Homo sapiens: one gene and its partners. The protein of the gene in region 1 interacts with the protein of each later gene in a biochemical or structural test. Each region holds a gene or a part of one and is shown in the gene's direction. Other genes may lie near its edges.

Region 1 (7,607 bases):
GTCCATCTGTGTTACCTGGGTTTGTATCTCTACCTCTGCACAAGGCTGTCCACACAGGTGCCCAGGCTGGGATCCGCCAGCCCCAGGGATGCTCCCCTGCAGGCATACTCACCCCTCTTCTCATCCCTGCCCCCAACTGCCTTGTGTTTTTAAAGCCCAAGATTCTGCCTGAAGCCCCTTCATTGGTGCCCTGGACCTTCTGGCAACCCTGTCCCCACCCAGGCTCCCGTCCTCTTCCCTGGGAAGCCACAGGGTTGCTGACACCTCTTGGGGTGGAGAAGGGGGATGCCCAGGTCCGAGGCCCTTCCTCCACTCCATCGTGGCCTTCTCTCCCCAGCTCCAGTAAGGAGGTGGCCCCCGCTGGCTCGGCTGGGCCCGCGGCCGGCCAGGGGCCTGGGGTCCGCGTGCGGGACATCGCCTCGCTGCGGCGCTCCCTCAGGATGGGTTTCATGACGATGCCCGCCTCCCAGGAGCACACCCCGCACCCCTGCCGCAGCGCCATGGCCCCACGCTCCCTCTCCTGCCACTCGGTGGGCAGCATGGACAGTGTCGGGGGTGGCCCTGGCGGGGCCAGTGGGGGCCTCACAGAGGACAGCAGCACCCGAAGACCCCCTGCCAAGCCCCGGAGACACCCCAGCACCAAGCTCAGCATGGTGGGGCCTGGGTCTGGGGCAGAGACGCCCCCCAGCAAGAAAGCAGGTGAGATACCCCCTATCTCTCCCTGGGGTGGAGCTGGGAGCTGGGAGGATCTATTCCACGCCCGGGGAGGCTTGCCGGGAGGGTTCATTCAGGGAAGAACCAAGGAAGTGGAAGATTCCATTCTCAAAAGGAATTGGGGGGGTCCTTTTGGATGGGCCTGAGATGAACCATTCAAGGGCAGGGGACACTCCCTGAAAAGTTCTTGAGAAAGGGGTGGTGGCCTCAGAGGGACAATGAAGGTAGGAGCTGCGAATTCTGGAGAATACGTTAGAAAGACTGAGGGCTGTGGGACAAGCCCCGTGGCTCACGCCCGTAATCTCAGCACTTTTTTTTTTTTGAGACAGAGTCTCGCTCTGTTGCCCAGGCAGGAGTGCAGTGGTGCGATCTCAGCTCACTGCATCCTCCGCCTCCCAGGTTCAAGCAGTTCTCCTGCCTCAGCCTCCCAGGTAGCTGGGATTACAGGCGTCCGTCACCACGCCCGGCTAATTTTTTGTATTTTTAGTAGAGACAGGGTTTCGTCTTGTTGGCCAGGCTGACAAGGCCAGGCTTGCTGGCCTCAGGTGATCCACCCACCTCGGCCTCCCAGAGTGCTGGGATTACAGGCGTGAGCCACTGTGCTTGGCCAATTAATTGACGTTTTAAAAAGACCAAGGGCTGACTAGTAGAAAAGGAACCTACAGCTGGGCATGGTGGCTGATGCCTGGAATCCTAGCACTTTAGGAGGCCGAGGCAGGAGGATCCCTTGAGCCCAGGAATTTGGGACCAGTCTGGGCAACATGGCAAGACCCATCTCTATTAAAAAATAAAAAAGAAATGAAGAAACCTCCTGGGGCTGTAAGTTGAGGAATGTGGGGAAAAGGAAGAGGCAGATATGTCCTTGCAGAAGGGTCAAGGGATCAGAATGGGCTCCTCCCACTTGCTCCCCTCATTAAAAGCCTGGTTTATTTTTCTCTTTCTTGTCCTGTCCAGGCTCACAGAAGCCAACCCCAGAGGGCCGAGAGTCCAGCCGGAAGGTTCCTCCGCAGAAGCCCAGGCGAAGCCCTAACACCCAGCTCTCTGTCTCCTTCGATGAGTCCTGCCCCCCAGGCCCCTCTCCTCGAGGGGGGAACCTGCCTCTTCAGCGCCTCACTAGGGGGTCCCGAGTAGCTGGGGACCCTGATGTGGGTGCCCAGGAAGAGCCTGTGTACATTGAGATGGTGGGGGACGTCTTTAGGGGAGGAGGACGAAGTGGAGGAGGCCTGGCTGGGCCCCCTCTTGGGGGTGGGGGCCCGACCCCTCCAGCGGGCGCCGACTCGGACTCTGAAGAGAGTGAGGCCATCTATGAAGAGATGAAGTACCCGCTGCCGGAAGAGGCTGGGGAAGGCCGGGCCAATGGCCCTCCACCATTGACGGCAACATCCCCGCCACAACAGCCTCACGCCCTTCCGCCCCATGCCCACCGCCGCCCAGCTTCAGCCCTCCCGAGCCGGAGGGACGGGACGCCCACCAAGACCACTCCTTGTGAAATCCCCCCGCCCTTCCCCAACCTCCTTCAGCACCGGCCTCCACTCCTGGCCTTCCCCCAAGCCAAGTCTGCTTCCCGAACCCCTGGCGATGGGGTCTCAAGGCTACCTGTCCTCTGCCACTCCAAGGAGCCAGCCGGCTCCACCCCAGCTCCCCAAGTGCCTGCACGGGAGCGGGAGACGCCTCCCCCACCGCCTCCACCTCCTGCTGCCAACCTGCTGCTGCTGGGACCATCGGGCCGGGCCCGGAGCCACTCGACACCGTTGCCACCCCAGGGCTCTGGCCAGCCCCGGGGGGAGCGGGAGCTCCCCAACTCCCACAGCATGATCTGCCCTAAGGCGGCGGGGGCGCCGGCAGCCCCCCCTGCCCCGGCCGCCTTGCTCCCCGGCCCCCCCAAGGACAAGGCCGTGTCTTACACCATGGTGTACTCGGCGGTCAAGGTGACCACGCACTCTGTCCTGCCAGCTGGTCCACCCCTGGGTGCTGGGGAGCCAAAGACGGAGAAGGAGATCTCGGTCCTCCATGGGATGCTGTGTACCAGCTCAAGGCCCCCTGTGCCAGGGAAGACCAGCCCCCACGGTGGGGCCATGGGCGCAGCAGCTGGGGTCCTCCACCACCGCGGCTGCCTGGCCTCCCCCCACAGCCTTCCGGACCCAACTGTAGGCCCCCTGACCCCGCTGTGGACCTACCCAGCCACAGCAGCTGGGCTCAAGAGACCCCCTGCCTATGAGAGCCTCAAGGCTGGGGGGGTGCTGAATAAGGGCTGTGGTGTGGGGGCCCCATCCCCCATGGTCAAGATCCAGCTGCAGGAGCAAGGGACCGATGGGGGTGCTTTTGCCAGCATCTCCTGTGCCCACGTCATCGCCAGCGCAGGGACACCAGAGGAGGAAGAAGAGGAGGTGGGCGCCGCGACATTTGGGGCAGGCTGGGCCCTGCAGAGGAAGGTCCTCTATGGAGGGAGAAAAGCAAAGGAGTTGGACAGTGAGTGAGGGGTGGGGAGTGGGGGCTGGCATCAGGGGTGGGGGGCAGCTGGGGATGCCTGCGATGGTTTGGGGGAGGTGTTGGAGGGGTTATTTGGAAGTCACAGCCTTGAGTCTGGGATGTTTTCTAGGAGACCAGAGAGGTGGGGGTGGGCGATAGACAGAAAGACCGGGGTCCCCCAGTGTGCGCTGGAGGGGCAGGAAGGTCTGGGAGGCGAAGGGGGTCAAATCTGGCCCTGTCCTGCTCTGCTCCCTGCCCCTCCCTTCCCGGGGCTGCAGGGGTGTGTGCTTGTGAGTGTGCGCACCAGGAACTAAACACAGCTGCCTCCCAGCTGTTACCATGGCAACCCATCCAGACAGGAGGGAGAGGAGAGGGAGGCCCCTACCGTTGCCTGGCAACGCAATGCTCTGCCAGGCCTCCTCTCAGAGATGAGCTTAGTTCACAGGCAGCCCTTCCCCCCAGCGCTCCCCCTTCTGGGCTCAGGAATTGGGATTCTCCCCCTACAGGTCTTGATCCCAGGGGGATGGTCATTCTCGCCCTATCTGGAGATGGAGGGGCTTGGAAGCTAAAGCTGCGGTTGGGGAGGCCCCTCTGACCAGGGAAAAGGGTTTGGATGCAGCACATAGACATGATTCTCAGCCCCAAGAGATGGTACCAATGGGTGGAAAGGAAGGGGTGTGTGTGTGTTTGTATGTATGTTGGGGGAGTGTGAAGGAGCCCCATCCCAGCCGTTACTTGCAAAAGGGGCAATTGTGTCTCCTGGTCCACCCATACTGCAGCATGTGTGGCCAGAGGGACAGAATGACGCCTCCAACATGCAGGCACACAGCTCTCCTTGTCATCCCAGCAGAGGTCGAGGACGGTGCCCGGGCCTGGAATGGCAGTGCCGAGGGTCCAGGCAAGGTGGAGCGTGAGGACAGGGGCCCTGGGACATCGGGGATCCCAGTGAGAAGCCAGGGGGCAGAGGGACTGCTGGCCAGGATCCACCATGGAGACCGAGGAGGGAGCCGCACCGCGCTGCCCATTCCCTGCCAGACCTTCCCCGCCTGCCACCGCAATGGAGGTGACGCGGCCTGCACACACCTGTGCACAGCGGGGCTGGCTGGGGGATCTCCCGGGGTCTAGCTGCACCTGTCCTGACTTCCTCTCACCTGTTCACGTCTGTGCCCAGGGCCCTAAATCCTCATACCACATCTCCACCCCTTTTTCCCTTCTGATGAGGCAGGGGCAGCCTGGACCATTCAAGGGCAGGGGACTGGGAACTAGGGGAGGGGTACCTGAGGCCCCTGCACTCCTCACTCCTCCTTCTTCCACCTCAGACTTCACGGGAGGCTACCGCCTGGGGCGCTCCGCCTCCACCTCCGGAGTCCGGCAGGTCGTGCTCCACACACCCCGGCCCTGCAGCCAGCCCAGGGATGCCCTGAGCCAGGTGAGGCTTGGTTTTTCTTTTATTTGTGAAGGAGCAGGTGGAGAAGGCTTGAATATGCAAAGAAAAGCAATAAAGGGGCCAGGGCTGGGCACAGTGGCTCATGCCTGTAATCCCAGCACTTTGGGAGGCCAAGGTGGGAGGGTCACTTGAGGCCAGAAGTTCATTAGCTTGAGCAACATAGTGAGACCCTGTCTCTATTTTTTCTTTTTTTTAAAAGAAGGCTAGTTGCAGTGGCTCACACCTGTAATCCCAATGCTTTCAGAAGCCAAGGCAGGTAGATTGCTTGAGCCCAGGAGGTCGAGACCAGCCTGGACCACATAGTGAGATCCCATCTCTATAAAAAATGCAAAATGTAGTCAGGTGTGCCGTCGCAAGCCTGAATTCCCAGCTACTCTGGAGGTTGAGGTAGGAAGATGGCTTTACCCTGGGAGGTGGAGGTTGCATTGAGCCATGATCACGCTACTGCGTTCCAGTCTGAGCCACAGAGTGAGACCCTGTCTTAGAAGAAAAAAAAAAAAAGAAAGAAAGGGGCCAGGCAGGGTGCGGTGGCTTACGCCTGTAATCACAGCACTTTGGGAGGCCGAGGCGGGCAGATCACTTGAGGTCAGGAGTTTGAGACCAGCCTGGCCAATGTGGTGAAACCCTGTCTCTACTAGAAATACAAAAATTAGGGCCAGGTGCGGTGGCTCATGCCTGTAATCCCAGCAGTTTGGGAGGCTGAGGCGAGTGGATCACAAGGTCAGGAGTTCAAGACTAGCCTGACCAACATAGTGAAATCCCATCTGTACTAAAAATACAAAAATTAGCCGGGCGTGGTAGCGCACGCCTGTAGTCCCAGCTACTCGGGAGGCAGAGGCATAAGAATCGCCTGAACCCGGGAGACGGAGGTTGCAGTAAGCCAAGATCGCACCACTGCACTCCAGTGGCCTGGGCAACAGAGAGAGACTCTGTCTCAAAAAAAACCAAAAAACAAAAAACAAAAACCCCACAGAAATTAGCTGGACATTGGGGCAGGCACCCGTAATCCCAGCTACTCGGGAGGCTGAGGCAGGAGAATTGCTTGAACCCGGGAGACGGAGGCTGCAGTGAGCCAAGATCATGCCACTGCACTCCAGCCTGGGCGACAGAGTTAGACTCTGTCTCAAAAAAAAAAAAAGGGGCCAGGCAGACTGGGGCCTGAGCCAGCGCAGACAGCGGGAACCCAGGAATGAGAGTGAGGGGGTTGGGAGAGGATCTGGGAAGGGTTTGAGGGTTTGCTTAAGATGGGCAGCAAGGTAGGGCCCAGCTTGGAGATCAGTCAGGGCCACCACTAGCCAACAGCACACCTTTGTGCGATTTAGGAAAAAGACCTCCCCACTGGGCACTATGTCTTGTGCCTGCAATCCCAGAACTGTGGGAGGCAGAGACGGGAGGATCGCTTGAACCCAGGAGGCTGAGGTTGCAATGAACTACGATCCCACCACAGCACTCTATCCTGGGTGTAAGGGCAAGACCGTGTCTCAAAAGAAATAAAAATAAAGAGGTCAAGCATGGTAGCTTACGCCTATAATCCTAGTACTTTGGGAGGCCGAGCCAAGAGAAGTGGTTGAGCCTAGGAATTCTGTACCAGCCTGGGCGACATAGGGAGACCCTGTCTTTACAAAAAATTTAAAAATTATCCAGACATGCTGGTGCATGCTTGTGGTTCCAGCAACTCTGAAGGCTGAGGCAGGAGAATCACTTGAGCCTGGGAGGTGGAGGTTGCAGTGAGCCATGGTCGTTCCACTGCACTCCAGCCTGGGTGGCAGAGGGAGAACCTGTCAAAAGAAAGAAAAAGAGAGAGAGTGAGAGAAAGAAGGAAGAAAGAGAGAAGGAGAGAAAGAGAGAAAGAAAGCAAGCAAGAAAGAAAAGAAAGCAAGAAAGAAAAGAGAAAGAAAGAAAGGGAGGAAAGGAGGAAGGGAGGGACCTTGTCTACCCTTGCCCCAGCTGGACACGGTAGTTGATACCTGTGATCCCAGTGCTTTGGGAGGCCAAGATGAGAGGATCCCTTGAGGCCAGGAGTTCAAGACCAGGCTTGGCAACAAAGCAAGATCCCATAAATACAAAAATAAACTTTAATTTAATTTTTTAACAATTAGCTGGTGTAGTGGTAAATGCCTGTAGTCCCAGCTACTTGGGAGGGAGGCTGACACTGGAGGATTGCTTGAGCCCAGGAGGTCGAGGCTGCAGTGAGCTATGATTGCACCACTGCACTCTGGCCTGGGCGACAGAGCCAGACCCTGTCTCAAAAAGACAAAAGAAAGAAAAAAAAGGGGAGATCCCTTCTAGGGGGACCAACTTAAAAAATGCACCTGTCTAGGAAGACTAGGGAGTGGCTGGGCCAAAGCTGCGCAAGTTGGATTTTGGCCCCCATGGGCCCCACAGCCAGAGGGAGCCAGCAGAGGCCGTTGGGGGGCAAGCAAGGACTTGCTTCTGAGGGGAGACGTGGGTCTCGGCAGTGCGGACCCGTCCGGTCATGCTGAGGTCCCCGACCTTACCCGCGTTTTCCTTTCTCCCCCGCCCGCGGCACAGCCCCACCCCGCGCTGCCGCTGCCTCTGCCCCTGCCGCCCCAGCCGGCCCGCGAGCGTGACGGGAAGCTGCTGGAGGTGATCGAGCGCAAGCGCTGCGTGTGCAAGGAGATCAAGGCGCGCCACCGCCCGGACCGAGGCCTCTGCAAGCAGGAGAGCATGCCCATCCTCCCCAGCTGGCGGCGGGGACCCGAGCCCCGCAAGTCCGGCACCCCGCCCTGCCGCCGGCAGCACACGGTCCTCTGGGACACCGCCATCTGAGGCGGGCGGGGGGGTACCGGGGCGCCTGGACTGGGGAGGGGGCGGGCACGCCTGGCTCTCCCGGGAGCCTCGCCTTGAGAGACATTGAAAGACTACGTGGGAGAGTGCCAGGGAGAACCCCTGCCCTCCAACCTACCCCCCGGGATGGGGAGAGTCTGCCAGGCCCATTGGGCTTAGGATGCCAACA
Region 2 (7,607 bases), on another chromosome or scaffold:
TCCCCTCTTCCCAATTCGTCGCCTAAACTCAAGCTGCCCCAGCCGCTAAAGTGGCTGCTGATGATAGGAAGCTGTGGGACTCTAACCTGTCTACCTTAGTAGTTATTAGGTCCTGTCATTTCTACCTCCCCAAACTTGTTCTGAGTGACATCTTCCTCAATGCCATTCCAACTCCGGCTTCATTACCTTTAATTTGTACTAATACAGTGTCCTTCTAACTAATCTCCAAGGTAACTGCCAGAGTTATTTTTCTAAAATCCAGTTCCGGTTATGTCTCTTCTCTGCTCAAAGACTCCCTTGGCTTCCTTTTGTCCTCCAATAAGTAAAATTCCTCATACCCCTCTCCAGTCTTCCTCTGCCTTTCCATCCTAACCCTGACTTCCCCACCACTGCTCCCTTGCAGGTACCCCTGTGCTTCAACAGCCTGCCTGCTCACTTCCCTGAATGCTCCTCCACGATTTACTGCTTCTCCATCTTTGCTTATGCTATTTCTCTGCCTGGAGTGAAAACTACCCCTGACACATCTCCAGCTGGCTGGCGTAGTGGAGAAAGCTTGGGCTTTGCAGTCAGAAACCTGGGTTCGGATCCTGGCTTCACAACTTATTATTTGGAGAAGTATTTGAACAAGTATTTAACATCTTTGAGTCTGTTTTCTGATCTGTAAAAATGGAAATAATGACACCTACTGTAAGGATTAAATGAAATTATGTATACAATGCAAGTGACATAGTCAATAAATGGCAGATCACTATTGTTTTTTATTATCTCTATTTTTTAAAATTCTAGCTTCAAATGATACTTATCATGGAGACTTTTTGGTTCCCCTTCCCTGACCTAAAGGGATCTCTCTGAGCACACACCTTTTGGCTCTTACCACATCCTGCCCTCCGTTGTGATTCTGTACTTGGCTTATTCACTCATCTCGTGGACTGGGAGCCCTTTGAACTCAAAGGCTAGGTCTTACTGATCTTGGTCCCCAGCCACTGAAAGTTTGGCCCAGGGTCTTCCCCACAGCTGGCCCTCAAGGAATGCTTGCTGGGTGAATGGAGAATGTCTACATAATGGGAGGAGAGACACTGGGTGCCGGGTGTGCTTGTTATGGAGGTTATCTGTGCAAAAGCTGTGTGCATAGGATGGGCTCCCTAGGAGAAGATAATGCAGTCGTGATGGGATCTGTGTGGGGGCTGTGTGATTGAGATAATGTGTGTATAGAGAGAGTAAGGTAGCTTTGTGGGAAAGAGCTCTGCCTAGGCTGGGGTGCATCTGGGGAGAATGAGTGTGCATTTGAGTATGGAGGGGCTGTACCGGGGGAAGTTCTGTGCAGCCCTTCAGCTAGCTGCCCAGTCCAGCTCTAAATGAGTCTCCAGCAGCCTGAGGCCGGATATGTCAGTCTCACCCACAGCCCTCCCCCACTGCCAGCGGTTGCGGACTCAGAGGCCAAATTTGGTAACAGACTGAGTGTTACTCCCCCATCCCTCTTATATTCTGACTGTCTTAAGCTCTTTCCTTTTGTTCCTGTCTGTAACTCCCTATCTTTCTGCAATTCCCCTTGTGGGTATCTGCTCTGACTATATTCTCCAAGTACCCCAACTTTCTTAGCTCCAATACTCTTACATTCCATTCCTTGCTGGGATTTGACCTCCTGTCCTCCATTCCCCCCCTCCAATTGCCCAACTTCTTTGGAATGCATCGCAGGAATGTATTGAGGGAGGAGGAGTTCCCTGGGAGGGGGACACGGCAGTGGGGAGTTGCTGTTCCATCAAACACAATGGAAAAGGGAGCAAAGTTCTCAGGCCAAAGGAGGAATGAGCTAGCTTCTACTCATACTTGTAGCAGCCTTGTTCTTTGCCACCACCACCCACAATTCACTGATCAGTTCTTCGCGTCCACACACCCTCTTGTAGCTGTGTGAATATCCACTCTGGACCAGCTGGGGAGTAAGGGTAGGCATGACTCAGCTCCCTTATCGGGGTCTCACCAGAGGCTTCCGTGCTTGAGGAGGAAGGGGGTGTCTAAGTGTCCAGAGGAAATGGGGGGAGACATGCAGTTTCAGCTTAGTGTGAAGGGTCCTTTCAGTCCTGCTTCTTGGCTCCACAGACTCCTCCAGCTTCTCGGATCCACCAGCCCAGCCCTCATTCTTTCATGGTCAGCAACCCCATAGCCAGGTCTGTCCAGCTGGGACACAAGCGGATAGTAATAAGGTTGGGCAAAGTGCCCCAGGAGTGGGGAGGGGGCAGAGAGCTGGAACTGGGGAGACTGGGAGGGTCCTCTCTTATTGGGGAGTAAAGACAGAGAGCTGTGGTTCTTCTCTTTTGAGACTCTGGACTGCTTGTAAGGTCAGAAATGGTCTATCTGCCACTTGGTACCAGACCGCTGATCTAGACCATTTTCATACCTGCCTCCTGTCTCTTGTTTCTACTTAGATTTTCAATTCTCCTCATCCCATCTCTCCTAACTTCTTTACCCTCTACCCCTTCTTAACTTCCCTGGCTTTCAAATGCCTTCTGTATCCTAACACCCCCATCTCTGCTTTCCAGCCTTCCCCTCTCACCCTGCTTTTCCCCATTTGAGGCTTGTAGTTTGCCAGGAGGGGAATGGGCAGCTTGTATTTGCCCATTCTCTTAGTTAAGAGGCACCCAATCCCTGTACCAAGCAGGGGCACATCAGCAGCAGCCGGGCAGACTTGTCCTCTTGCAGCCTGTGCGCCACCTGCTGCCTCCAGTGCCTCCTCTAGCCTGCTGAGAGGGGGTGCCAGGAGGGTGGAAGAAGGTGGGGTAGGACTAGTATTCTGAGCTGCACTGAAAATACAGTCAGGGGAAGTGGGTGAGACAGAGCAGAATTCGAGACAGACTTGCTGAAGAGGAGAAAGCATGGGAGGAGTTGCAGGACTGAGTATTAACTTGATGACTTGGAACAAGCAAGGACTGAGTTACAGGGACTGGGTCCTTTCTCTGGCCTGTCTTGAAAATGTTTCCTGGCCTCCCAGAGTCTATTTCCCCTTCTCCAAAACACAAGAGTTGACCAGATAACTTCTGAGATAGATCCCTTTGAGTTAGAGAATCACATTTCTAGCTTGACTGCCTGGGAAGCCCAGTACAGGGCTAGGCTCCTTCAGAAGGCCCCCGCATCTCAGGTTAGAAAAAAGCTGGGGCAAGAGCGGACCCCTGAATGGCTTGAGCAACCAGTATTTGGTCTCCCTGCCAGGCTAGCTAGAGTTTGTTTGCAGGCTTCAAGAGCCTTAGGGAATTATAACATCTTCATTTTGCAGAGAAGGCAGCTAAAGCCATGAGAAGGAAGGTCACGTGGTGAGAAGAGAGCTCTGAAAATCCCGGACAGGGAAGAGCCAGCAGGACACAGCAGGAGACAAAGAGAGAAAAATACTGAACCAGGCAAAAATGAAAAGAAGGCAGGAGTAGGGCTGAGAAAGGTGATCAGGGACAAGGGGCAAGAGAGATACTTGGATGAAAGTAGGGAGGTACAAATTCCAGTGGTGGGGCAGGGCAGTGTCCTCAGGTAGCACTGCATTTCAGACCTGCTATTGTACCTTGCAGACCAGCTTCTCCTTTCCCTCAGATGTCTTAAATTGTTAGGACTTGGCCGGGCGTGGTGGCTCACGCCTGTAATCCCAGCACTTGGGGAGGCCAAGGTGGATCACGAGGTCAGGAGATCGAGACCATCCTGGCTAACATGGTGAAACCCCGTCTCTACTAAAAATACAAAAAATTAGCCAGGCATGGCAGCGGGCGCCTGTAGTCCCAGCTACTGGGGAGGCTGAGACAGGAGAATGGCGTGAATCCAGGAGGCGGAGCTTGCAGCGAGCTGAGATCGCACCACTGTACTCTAGCCTGGGCAACAGAACGAAACTCTGTCTCAAAAAAAAAAATTGTCAGGACTCATTCTTTTGATGTAAATAATTTTTCACTCTTTAAAATTATTAAATACAATGAAAACAACCTTATTACCATCTACTTTGGTGAGTCCCTTTCAAAAACACTCTTCCCTTGGACTCCACCATCTGGGGGGCCTCTTCTCCCACCAGAAGAGTGTATTCTAATGCCCTGATGCCATGGGTCAGGTATAGCCAGGCTGGAGAAAAGAAGCTGCCACCATGGTTGCACTTTCACTGAAGATCAGCATTGGGAATGTGGTGAAGACGATGCAGTTTGAGCCGTCTACCATGGTGTACGACGCCTGCCGCATCATTCGTGAGCGGATCCCAGAGGCCCCAGCTGGTCCTCGTGAGTCTGACTCCCCCGGTGGCTGGAGTGGGAGTCTTCAGTCCCTTCTTGTTCCCAGGCTCTCGGCCTTGAGAGTTGACCCCTTTGTCCCCTAAGACTACTCACCCCTCAGGTCTGTGTTCCATGGTTCCCTCGTTCTTTAGGCCCAAGGTCATGGGAGAAATAGTCAGGGGCAACATGGTACAAGCTGTTCAGCCACATTGGGGTCTTCATAAGCCTAAAGTGATCCATCCTCTCTTTTAGCCAGCGACTTTGGGCTCTTTCTGTCAGATGATGACCCCAAAAAGGGTATATGGCTGGAGGCTGGGAAAGCTTTGGACTACTACATGCTCCGAAATGGGGTAAGTATCCTTTCATCAAGGACCACCACATCCCCTTCCATCAGCTTCTCCCTGTTCCACCTCCTGTTTTCAGCACCCACATCTGTTGTCTCTTAGCCCTCCCCATGCTTTCTTCCTATTAACAGACAGTCATAATTCCCTGCTTTTGAACGAACCACCATAGTCTTCCTTTCAGTGCTCCACTCTCTCCCCTCGGGCTGTGTAAAGAGGAAATAATACCCCTAGCTCAGAGTAGGCCCCTGTCTCTTCTTCCTGCCCTAACAGGACACTATGGAGTACAGGAAGAAACAGAGACCCCTGAAGATCCGTATGCTGGATGGAACTGTGAAGACGATCATGGTGGATGACTCTAAGACTGTCACTGACATGCTCATGACCATCTGTGCCCGCATTGGTAAGGGGCCCTAGTACAGTTGAAAGCCTGGGCCAGAAAGCCTCAACTCTCTCAAAAGGCATGGATGCAGTACCTGGGAAGCTAACAAGCCATCTCCTTCCTCAGGCATCACCAATCATGATGAATATTCATTGGTTCGAGAGCTGATGGAAGAGAAAAAGGAGGAAATAACAGGGACCTTAAGAAAGGACAAGACATTGCTGCGAGATGAAAAGAAGATGGAGAAACTAAAGCAGAAATTGCACACAGATGATGAGTGTAAGCAGAACTAGAAAAAAGAGGGCTTTTGAAATGGGAAGGGTGGGAAGGGGCTTCAGCATCTGCTTCTGCCAGGCACTGTTTTACACCCTGGGGATACATCAGTGAGAAAACAAAGTCCTACACTCATGGGACTTACATTTAAGTGAGGGGAGGTAGGAAATGCAGAAATAAACAGAGACCAGACAGCACAGGGGCCATGGGGGTTTGGCACTGAGGGGACTGTCTGTATCCCAGTGAACTGGCTGGACCATGGTCGGACACTGAGGGAGCAGGGTGTAGAGGAGCACGAGACGCTGCTGCTGCGGAGGAAGTTCTTTTACTCAGACCAGAATGTGGATTCCCGGGACCCTGTACAGCTGAACCTCCTGTATGTGCAGGTATGCAGAGGACTTGGCTGGGGTGGGGCAGGAATAGGGAGGGCTCGGAAGCACAGTGTGCGTGTCCTTGCACCCACACACAACATTCGCCTCCTTGCCCTGTGCTCTCCAGGCACGAGATGACATCCTGAATGGCTCCCACCCTGTCTCCTTTGACAAGGCCTGTGAGTTTGCTGGCTTCCAATGCCAGATCCAGTTTGGGCCCCACAATGAGCAGAAGCACAAGGCTGGCTTCCTTGAGTGAGTGACCCACATCCTATACCCTGTCAGGGCCCAGGACTCCCTGCCATTGTGACCCCAGTGGGCCTGTCTCCATTCCAAGCCTGCCCCCCACTATTTCTTCTTCCGAGGTACCAGGGTTTGACCAACATAGCTACCCTTTTAGTTGCCATCATCCATTGTCTCTTCTCTGCCTCTGGAATATGAATGTAGTTCAGTATCTCTGCCCCTACCCCCATCTCTGAAGCAAGCATGTCACTCTTTTTTGAGATTATCTGAAGAATTTTGCTGCAGTAGCCAGAGGGAAACCGGGTAAAATTTTCCCTATAGGGAACATGGGTTAAAAGTCTCACAAGCCTCATCTGCTGGTGTTTCTTGGAATGCAGAGTTTGGCGTGGCTTTCTCAGCTTCCTAAGTGCATGTTCATCCTTCTAGAAAGCTCTTTCTCCTCTTGGTTCCCTGAAATGGTGCTCTAGACCCACTTTCCCTCAGGGACTGAGCCTCTAACTTAATTTTCCTCAGTCCCTTTCCCTACAGGGAGAGACACAGGTCACATTAAGAATTCATACTGGCCAGGCTCGGTGGCTCACACCTGTAATCCCAGCACTTTGGGAGGCCAGGGCGGGCAGATCACCTGAGGTCGGGAGTTCGAGACCAGCCTGACCAACGTGGAGAAACCATGTATCTCTACTAAAAATACAAAATTAGCCAGGCGTGGTGGCACATGCCTGTAATCCCAGCTACTCGGGAGGCTGAGGCAGGAGAATCACTTGAACCTGGGAGGTGGAGGTTTTGGTGAGCTGAGATCGTGCCATTGCACTCCAGCCTGGGCAACAAGAGTGAAACTCCATCTCAAAAAAAAAAAAGAAGAGTTTACACGAAGTCACCTCTATTTCAGAAGATAATCTAGACTCTATTCCCTCAGAGTCTTTTTTCTCCCCAAAGATAACACTGTCCTAGGTATTTCCTCATACCCCCAGGCCCACAGTTCATGGCCCACATGTCCCCTGATGCTGTCTACCACATGCTGACCCTCCCTTTTCTGGTGTAGCCTGAAGGACTTCCTGCCCAAGGAGTATGTGAAGCAGAAGGGAGAGCGTAAGATCTTCCAGGTGAATGTGGGTAGGGGAAAGTATTTGGGATGACCGCGGAGCTTTGCTGCTTAATCTTACTGACTAAATGGCCCCCTGCCTCCTCCCCGTCTCCCCTAACTTGGCTTTCACCCACCGGGCTGTTATCCCACCTCACCTCTGCCAAGAAAGCAGACAGCTTGGGCTTTTAGTCTCAGCTCCATCCCTGCTTTTGCTGTGCAATTCAGTTCAATATTCTTGTAATCTTTTATTTACCTCTGATTTGGGATAACAGTACTTGCCCCGTGTAGGACTGATAGGATCAAATGAGGTAGCATAATCTGAAATTACTGTGAAAGAGTATAGTCTTTGTCCACTATAAGGTGTTACCCCCACTCTGAATACTCAGCCCAGAAGGCCTTCTCTTTGCCCTTCTACTTCCAAACTCTCTGTTCATATCTCCAGAATGTCTGCAAGTTCCTTGACTGTATCCCTTGACTCATCGCTTCTGCATAGCCCTTATCAGCCTCCATCCCGTTACCCTCTCGTTCTCATATCTTGTACTCCTCAACCTTTCCAGTGTCCCCATAATTCTCTCTCGTTAGAGTTAGCATCCAACCTTAATTCCTTAGCTGTGATATGAAACTCTTTGCTAAATTCTTCCCCATTTTATGCACAGGCACACAAGAATTGTGGGCAGATGAGTG
Region 3 (6,424 bases), on another chromosome or scaffold:
TAGGCAGTGCTTTGGTGATGGGCTACACTGGGCTGGCTGTATGATCATCGTACTTCTTGGGCAGCAGCGGCGTTTTGCTGTGCTGGATTTCTGCTACCATCTACTTAAAGTCCAGAAACATGATGGCAAAGATGAGATTATTAAAAATGTGGTATGTGGATGAAAATCTCGCACCATCTATGGACCTTTTGCAAAAGCATACTTTCTTTGTGTTATAAGTTCTTGTTTCTGGCAATGTTTTTCATCCTAGTACGTAAGGTGCCACCAACAGAAACTTTCTTTTCGTTCCCAAAATGAATCTAAATATAATTGGCCAGTAAAGCAGTCTGGCAGAGAAAATACTCATTGTTCCGTTTTCCTTCTCAAGGTACTTAGATTTACTTCCAGTCTTACAGGATCTGCATTGTCAGAATATTGGCAACTATAGTCTTCGGGCCCCTGGAAGTCTGTGCTTTCTTGGCTGCTTTAAAGGCCTTTTGTCTTTGTTGCTTTATGGATCCCTCATAGTTGAATTCTGGAAAATACTCAGCCATTATCTTTGAAATATTTCAGCCTCCTTTCCATTCTCCCTATTCTTGCCATTCAGGACTTCAGTTAAACATATGTTAGACCTTCTCATTCTATTCTCCACATCTCTTTGTTGTATCAGTTTTCTTTTTTCTTTCTTTTTTTTTTTTTTTTTGAGACAGTTTCGCTCTTGTTGCTCAGGCTGGGGTGCAATGCCACGATCTTGGCTCACTGCAATCTCTGCTGCCCAGGTTCAAGTGATTCTCCTGCCTCAGCCTCCCGAGTAGCTGGGATTATAGGCACCTGCCACCACGCCCGGCTGATTTTTGTATTTTGTAATTTTGTATTTTTAGTAGAGACTAGGTTTCACCATGTTGGCCAGGCTGATCTTGAACTCCTGACATAAGGTGATCCGCCCACCTCCCAAAGTGCTAGGATTACAGGCGCGCCCAGCCCTGTTGTATTAGTTTTCTATTGCTTCCATGACAACAAATCACCACAGGCTTGGCAGTTTAAATACCACTGATTATCTCACAATTCTCTAAGTCAGATGCCTGAGTTCAGCCAGGCCCAGCTGGGTCCTCTGCTCAGTCTCATGGGGCCAGTGTCTGAGGTGCTGGGTTCACCCTGGAGGCCTTCAAGCTTATGCACAGTTGGCTCAATTATTCCTTGCAGCTGTAGGACTGGGTCCCCCTTCCTTCTCATGCTTTCCAAGTGGCCCCCTCCAGCAATGGTGGGTTGGGCAGTCTCAGCCTCTAGTCTTCTGCCATGTCTCTCCTGCCTCCGGCCAGAGAACATTCCCTGACTGTGACTATATTGAGCCCACTGGACAACCCCAGATACTCTCCCTGTTCTACAGTCCAGTCTTAGCCACACCTGCCCAGGCCCCGTGGAGTGGAGGCAATGCAGTCACAGGCTCCAGGTCATGGGCCTCTCTCAGGGGCCCTTCTGCCTCCCACTCCTCCATTTCCGGGGCTCCCAGAGCTGTGTCCAGATACTGTATTCATGTGTCTTAGTTAACTTGTTTACTTCAGCTCTAATCTGCTGAGCTTTTACTCTGAAAATATTATTAGTTCACTTTTTAAAGTTCAATTAGGTTCTTCAAATCTTCTTGGTAACTGACAGTTTTATTGTCTTAACTGAACTTTTTCCATCTCTTATTTCTTTATCCAATTCATGTATTCTATATTCTGTGTGTTTTCCTTCTAGTATCTGAAGGCCTTGGAGGTATTTAAAACTTTGCTGTTTCCTTGTGTGTTGGGTTATTTGGGAGTCTTTATTTAACTGGAGTTAATTTAGATTGCTTTCCCCCAAGATGTGCATTTGTATCTGCCCATCTCTATGGGGTGCTACCAACTCAGGGCCGCTTTAGCCGAATTGGAGGTCCTGGCTTCACTGGGGAGTCTTCGGTGTGGTCCCGCTTGCTTACGCCCGGGCTGCTCCTCACCCCACCGCCGCTGTTGGCATCTGCCCCTGAGGAGGCCCTGGCTTCCCCCTTACCACCTGCATAGGTAGAACCAGCTTTTCAAAGCGTTTTGTTTGCGTGTATGTTCTTAATTCGTGTTCTTTATTCCTGTGGTAGCAGGAGGGTCTGTCAGAGTATCCCGTCACAGTATTTCCAAACTGGAAGTCTAAAACTTGTGTTAGTTGACTGGCCTTTCTCCACTGACCACATCATCTTCATCTGGAGATCCCCAGCTTTGAGCAGACAGTAGGTTCTTAATTGCCAATGTGGAAGGAATAGGCCTATCAATTGTGCGCATGAATGAATCTACAGCAGCATGAAGCCAACAGAGGGATTCTAAATTCAAAATATATTCATCCTTCCAACTGTTGCATTAAAGAGATGGTATGTGGCTGGGAGTGCTGGCTCATACCTGTAATCCCAACAGTTTGGGAGGCTGAGGCAGAGGAGGATTGCTTGAGCTCAGGAGTTCAAGACCATCCTGGACAGCATAATAAGACCTTGTCTTTACAAAATTAAATTTAAAAATTAGCTGCGTGTGGTGGTACACGCCTGTGGTCCCAGCTACTCAGGAGGCTGAGGTGGGAGGATGTCTTGAGGCTACAGTGAGCCGTGATCATGCCACTGCACTCCAGCCTGGGCGTCAGAGTGAGACCCTATCTTACAAAAAAAAACCCAAAAAGAACAGTATGTGTGTCAATTCCGTTTGCTATTATTTTTCTGAGAAAATATAAGAATCCTGACATTTTGAAACATGAAGAATAAATGTTGAAGTGTTAATAGTAAAACATCCTCACTTTGATGGTTGTAGCCTTTGAAGAAGATGGTGGAGAGAATTCGCAAGTTCCAGATTCTCAATGATGAGATCATCACCATCCTGGATAAGTACCTGAAGTCAGGCGACGGGGAGGGCACGCCAGTGGAGCATGTGCGCTGCTTCCAGCCGCCCATCCACCAGTCCCTCGCCAGCAGCTGAGGGCACGCGCTGCACTCCGTAACTCAACATGGCATGCCTTTCTCTCCGTAAACTATTTAGTGAGATTTTTAGGGACTATTTTTCAGTATCTCTGTACCTGTTAAAGGGGGTGCTTTTCGATCTAAAAACTTAATTTTATAAAATTGACTTATTTTTCTAGACTAAAATTGTATATGCTTTTGGTAATTAGGAACTCTTGAGAATATTGGCTGCTGATTGTTGCCATCACGTTCCTACAAAATTGTTTTTCTATGGGATGTTCTGGCAGCTGTGTCATAAAATGCTGCTGGGTTCATTCATTCATTCCATAAGAAACTTAATACCAGCAAATGCATTAAATCCCTTGCCAGTTACCATTAACTGTAACTATTTAGCTTTTGTTTAGGGATCTTTCTGATGGTCTTTTATGAGCAATCTTAGTTCTAAGTCATTGTTCCCATCCCTTTTTTGTGTGTTTCAGAAAATAGTGAACTTGATTCCCCTGCTTCCACTAAATCCAGTTGTGACAAAATCTAACGTGACATCAGATCGAAAGGTTATAGAAATAAAACTAATGAGATCTATTTGTGTTCATTTATTTACTCTAACCCTGTGCTGCCTGGCTTGGCAAGGAACTCTAACCTGAACTCACATACCAGGCCAGCTGGGATGGAGGTCACCTCTAAGGCTGAGGTGGGATGGGACCGTGACACCATCCCATATACCGCTCACCTCAGCACAGGTTTAGCTTTATATTTAGGGTTCCGCAGGCAAATGAGGTGTAAAACGGCCGTGTTGGCTGCTCCAATCTGGATATGAAGAGGCTACTCAGTGCCTCTCTGTTACCTGTGCCCATGACCTGGAGGAAGCCAGCAATGTGGGAGGAGATCAGTCAGGCCCAGTGGGTGCTGCACAAAGGGACCGGGAGCACCGAGTCCAGCCTTCAGCTGTCCCCGATCCACAGGGCTCACATGGCTGGAGCTGGTTCACATGATCTGTCAGAATGAAAAACAATCGGTCTAGACTACCAGTAGAGTCACGAACATGTTTGAGAAACTAAAGCCATATTTTAAAAAGTACTAAGGCAATGAGGTTCTGAAAATCCTAACTAACTGAATGGAAAAAGATGCTATGCCTGTTTATTGTAGATGAATACTACAGATAAACACAAGTCCAGCATGATTAACTGAACTCACTTTATATTGTAGCCTGGCAGTCATTTTACATTATTTGGAGTATTGCAACCTTCACCAATTTTAAAATTTTCTATGGATGCCAAGTTGCCATAAAAAGCAGGCCTCGCCTACTTTTCCGGAGGCCTTTGGAAACTGTCCAGAAGCATATGATGCACGGCACAGAAAAGTAGTAAGTGTACGAACCATCCTGTTACACTGCCAAACTCACTCAAGTGACATGAAGCCTAACAAACAATTATTCTTTCTTTATAAAAAGTTCCCTAAAAATGCTTTTGGTAATGTGAATTAATAACCCTGGGGCCAGCATTCTGCTGCAGATTTAGAGGTGGTAGCTGTGCTTATCTTAGAAACTACAGAATAGGATGAAAAATTATGGTAAAACTTAATCAATTACCAAGTTTTATAAGGCTTAATTATATACCAAATATGTAATACCTTAGGTATAAGACAATCTCAAGTGCTACAAAATGTTAAATAAGAATTTATTATTTATTAACCTATGCATGTTCAAATGAGTCTCTGTCCTCAAGGGGGAGAAAACTGGTTCTTTTATGTACAAAGCACAGATGTAGGTACAGTATATAAACAGATACGTAGTACATCTGTAGTATTAAAATGGCATGGGAGGAGGCAGTTAGAAAAAACATCTAAAACAGCTCCTTAGAAGGCCAATAATAAAGTTGGAAAAAAGGGAGTTTCCACGCAGCCAGTGGTGAGCTGCATGGGATACCAGCACCATTGGCAGGGGAGGCCCTCGGGGAGTGATGGCTTGGCGCTGGCGCACCACTGGGTAACCTCCAGGCAGGAGCCACAGGCTGGAACAGGCGAACACTTTCTTCCCATCACCTAGGTGGAAATTAATTCTGCCAATACTTTTTTTTAAAGGCCAGTCAATGGTTATGAGTGGATAGGTTCAAAGCTGAATGGAGTTCATTAGACCTTTTTTATTATTCTACCTTTTCTGCATATGTTTGCAGTTTTCCATCGACTTCTTCATAAACAAACATTTTCTAGAAACCAAAATATGTAGTGGCCCAAAGGAGCTCTTAAGCAAAGTACTTGGTACAAAGAGACCATATTCTATAAACATGTTAAGTTTGTTCTAAGCATTCAGACTTTTAGAATAAGAACTTCATTTCAACTTTTTATTATAACATGAGCTAAATTTAAGAAACAACCCTAGTCTTCTATTTCCCAGAGCTGTTCAAAGTCTAAATGACAATATAACTCATTATGAAAATATACTGAAAAGTACAAGAGCTGATGTAAAACGGTAATCAAGGTTCCAGGCATCATGGGATTAGGGTAACTGAAGAATAAACCCAGCCAGGCTGCAACAGCAGGCAGGATGTGCTGGCTTGATGAGGTGCTAAGGCCATCGAATGCTCAGAGGAAGCCGGATTCACGGTGATCATCTCAACCTGAGAAATCGTTCCTTGGGGTGATTTCTGCCCTTTTTTTTGTTTTGTAAGAAAGAGGTTCCTTCATTCAGTAACTTAGTTTTCCCTTAATAAATATTTCAAAAATAAAACCAATCATCATCAAACAAACAGGAGCCACTTTTGTAGGTAAGGTAAATCACAGGATAATGTATTGGGATAACTCTGTTTTTTTAAAATAAAAAAGCCTTACATGGTCAGGGATTGATGGAGTGGGGATGACAAATGCACATTTCAGACTTTCATCACCAATGAAAAAATAAAGCATTTTCATAGACTTAAAACTGTCATTAGTGCATTCGGCTTTTGGAGAAGGGATGAAAATGTAAAATACTTCTACAACAATAAAATGTTAATAGAAATCGTCATGTGCTGAGGTCATTTTAGTGAGCTACCATTGTTTGTTTAAATACAAGAAAAGTAATTTCTTGGTCCAAATTAGTGAAATCTTTAAAAAGATTGCCTTTAAAGAACATTATTTGAGGACAATGTTTTTTCAGACACATTCTGATGATATTCAAATTCACTTCATAACAATCACAGATTAACCTTTAATTACACCTTTCTTAAAAAGCTGTCAGATTTCCATTTCTTCGGGAGACATTTTCACCAGTGTGTTGTTCGATTCCACAGGTTAAGCTTTCTTCATTATTATTAAGAACTTCATACATATTAGAGAGATTGCCATTCATTGCTTTCTCGTCTTTTCGAAAAGACACAGGCAGACTTGCTAGACTAAAGCTGACGTCTTTAAAGGCATGCAACAAGAATATCCCCACAATGATTGTAAAGAAGCCACTCAAAGTACCAATGACATCGTCAACAGGCATATCTTGCCACTCCTTAAAAAGAATAGCTGAAC

The links.
Region 2: the proteins of NYAP1 (region 1) and TLN1 interact in a test that uses a peptide from one of them, tested with the Homo sapiens proteins (one study listed by BioGRID).
Region 3: the proteins of NYAP1 (region 1) and CYFIP1 form a complex in vitro, tested with the Homo sapiens proteins (one study listed by BioGRID).

The regions. Positions count from the first base shown.
Region 1 is NC_000007.14:100,486,484-100,494,090, forward strand, and holds part of NYAP1 (neuronal tyrosine-phosphorylated phosphoinositide-3-kinase adapter 1), read left to right. Parts: intron 1-337; coding exon 338-699; intron 700-1,668; coding exon 1,669-3,183; intron 3,184-4,033; coding exon 4,034-4,246; intron 4,247-4,502; coding exon 4,503-4,612; intron 4,613-7,162; coding exon 7,163-7,420; 3' UTR 7,421-7,607. UniProt on the Homo sapiens protein: Activates PI3K and concomitantly recruits the WAVE1 complex to the close vicinity of PI3K and regulates neuronal morphogenesis.
Region 2 is NC_000009.12:35,722,196-35,729,802, reverse strand, and holds part of TLN1 (talin-1), read left to right. Parts: intron 1-4,075; 5' UTR 4,076-4,108; coding exon 4,109-4,238; intron 4,239-4,481; coding exon 4,482-4,579; intron 4,580-4,843; coding exon 4,844-4,973; intron 4,974-5,078; coding exon 5,079-5,231; intron 5,232-5,468; coding exon 5,469-5,611; intron 5,612-5,723; coding exon 5,724-5,851; intron 5,852-6,881; coding exon 6,882-6,942; intron 6,943-7,579; coding exon 7,580-7,607. UniProt on the Homo sapiens protein: High molecular weight cytoskeletal protein concentrated at regions of cell-matrix and cell-cell contacts. Involved in connections of major cytoskeletal structures to the plasma membrane.
Region 3 is NC_000015.10:22,866,552-22,872,975, reverse strand, and holds the end of CYFIP1 (cytoplasmic FMR1-interacting protein 1), read left to right. Parts: intron 1-3; coding exon 4-151; intron 152-2,783; coding exon 2,784-2,948; 3' UTR 2,949-5,924; downstream 5,925-6,424. Other genes in the region: magnesium transporter NIPA2, read right to left, coding at 6,129-6,424. UniProt on the Homo sapiens protein: Component of the CYFIP1-EIF4E-FMR1 complex which binds to the mRNA cap and mediates translational repression. In the CYFIP1-EIF4E-FMR1 complex this subunit is an adapter between EIF4E and FMR1.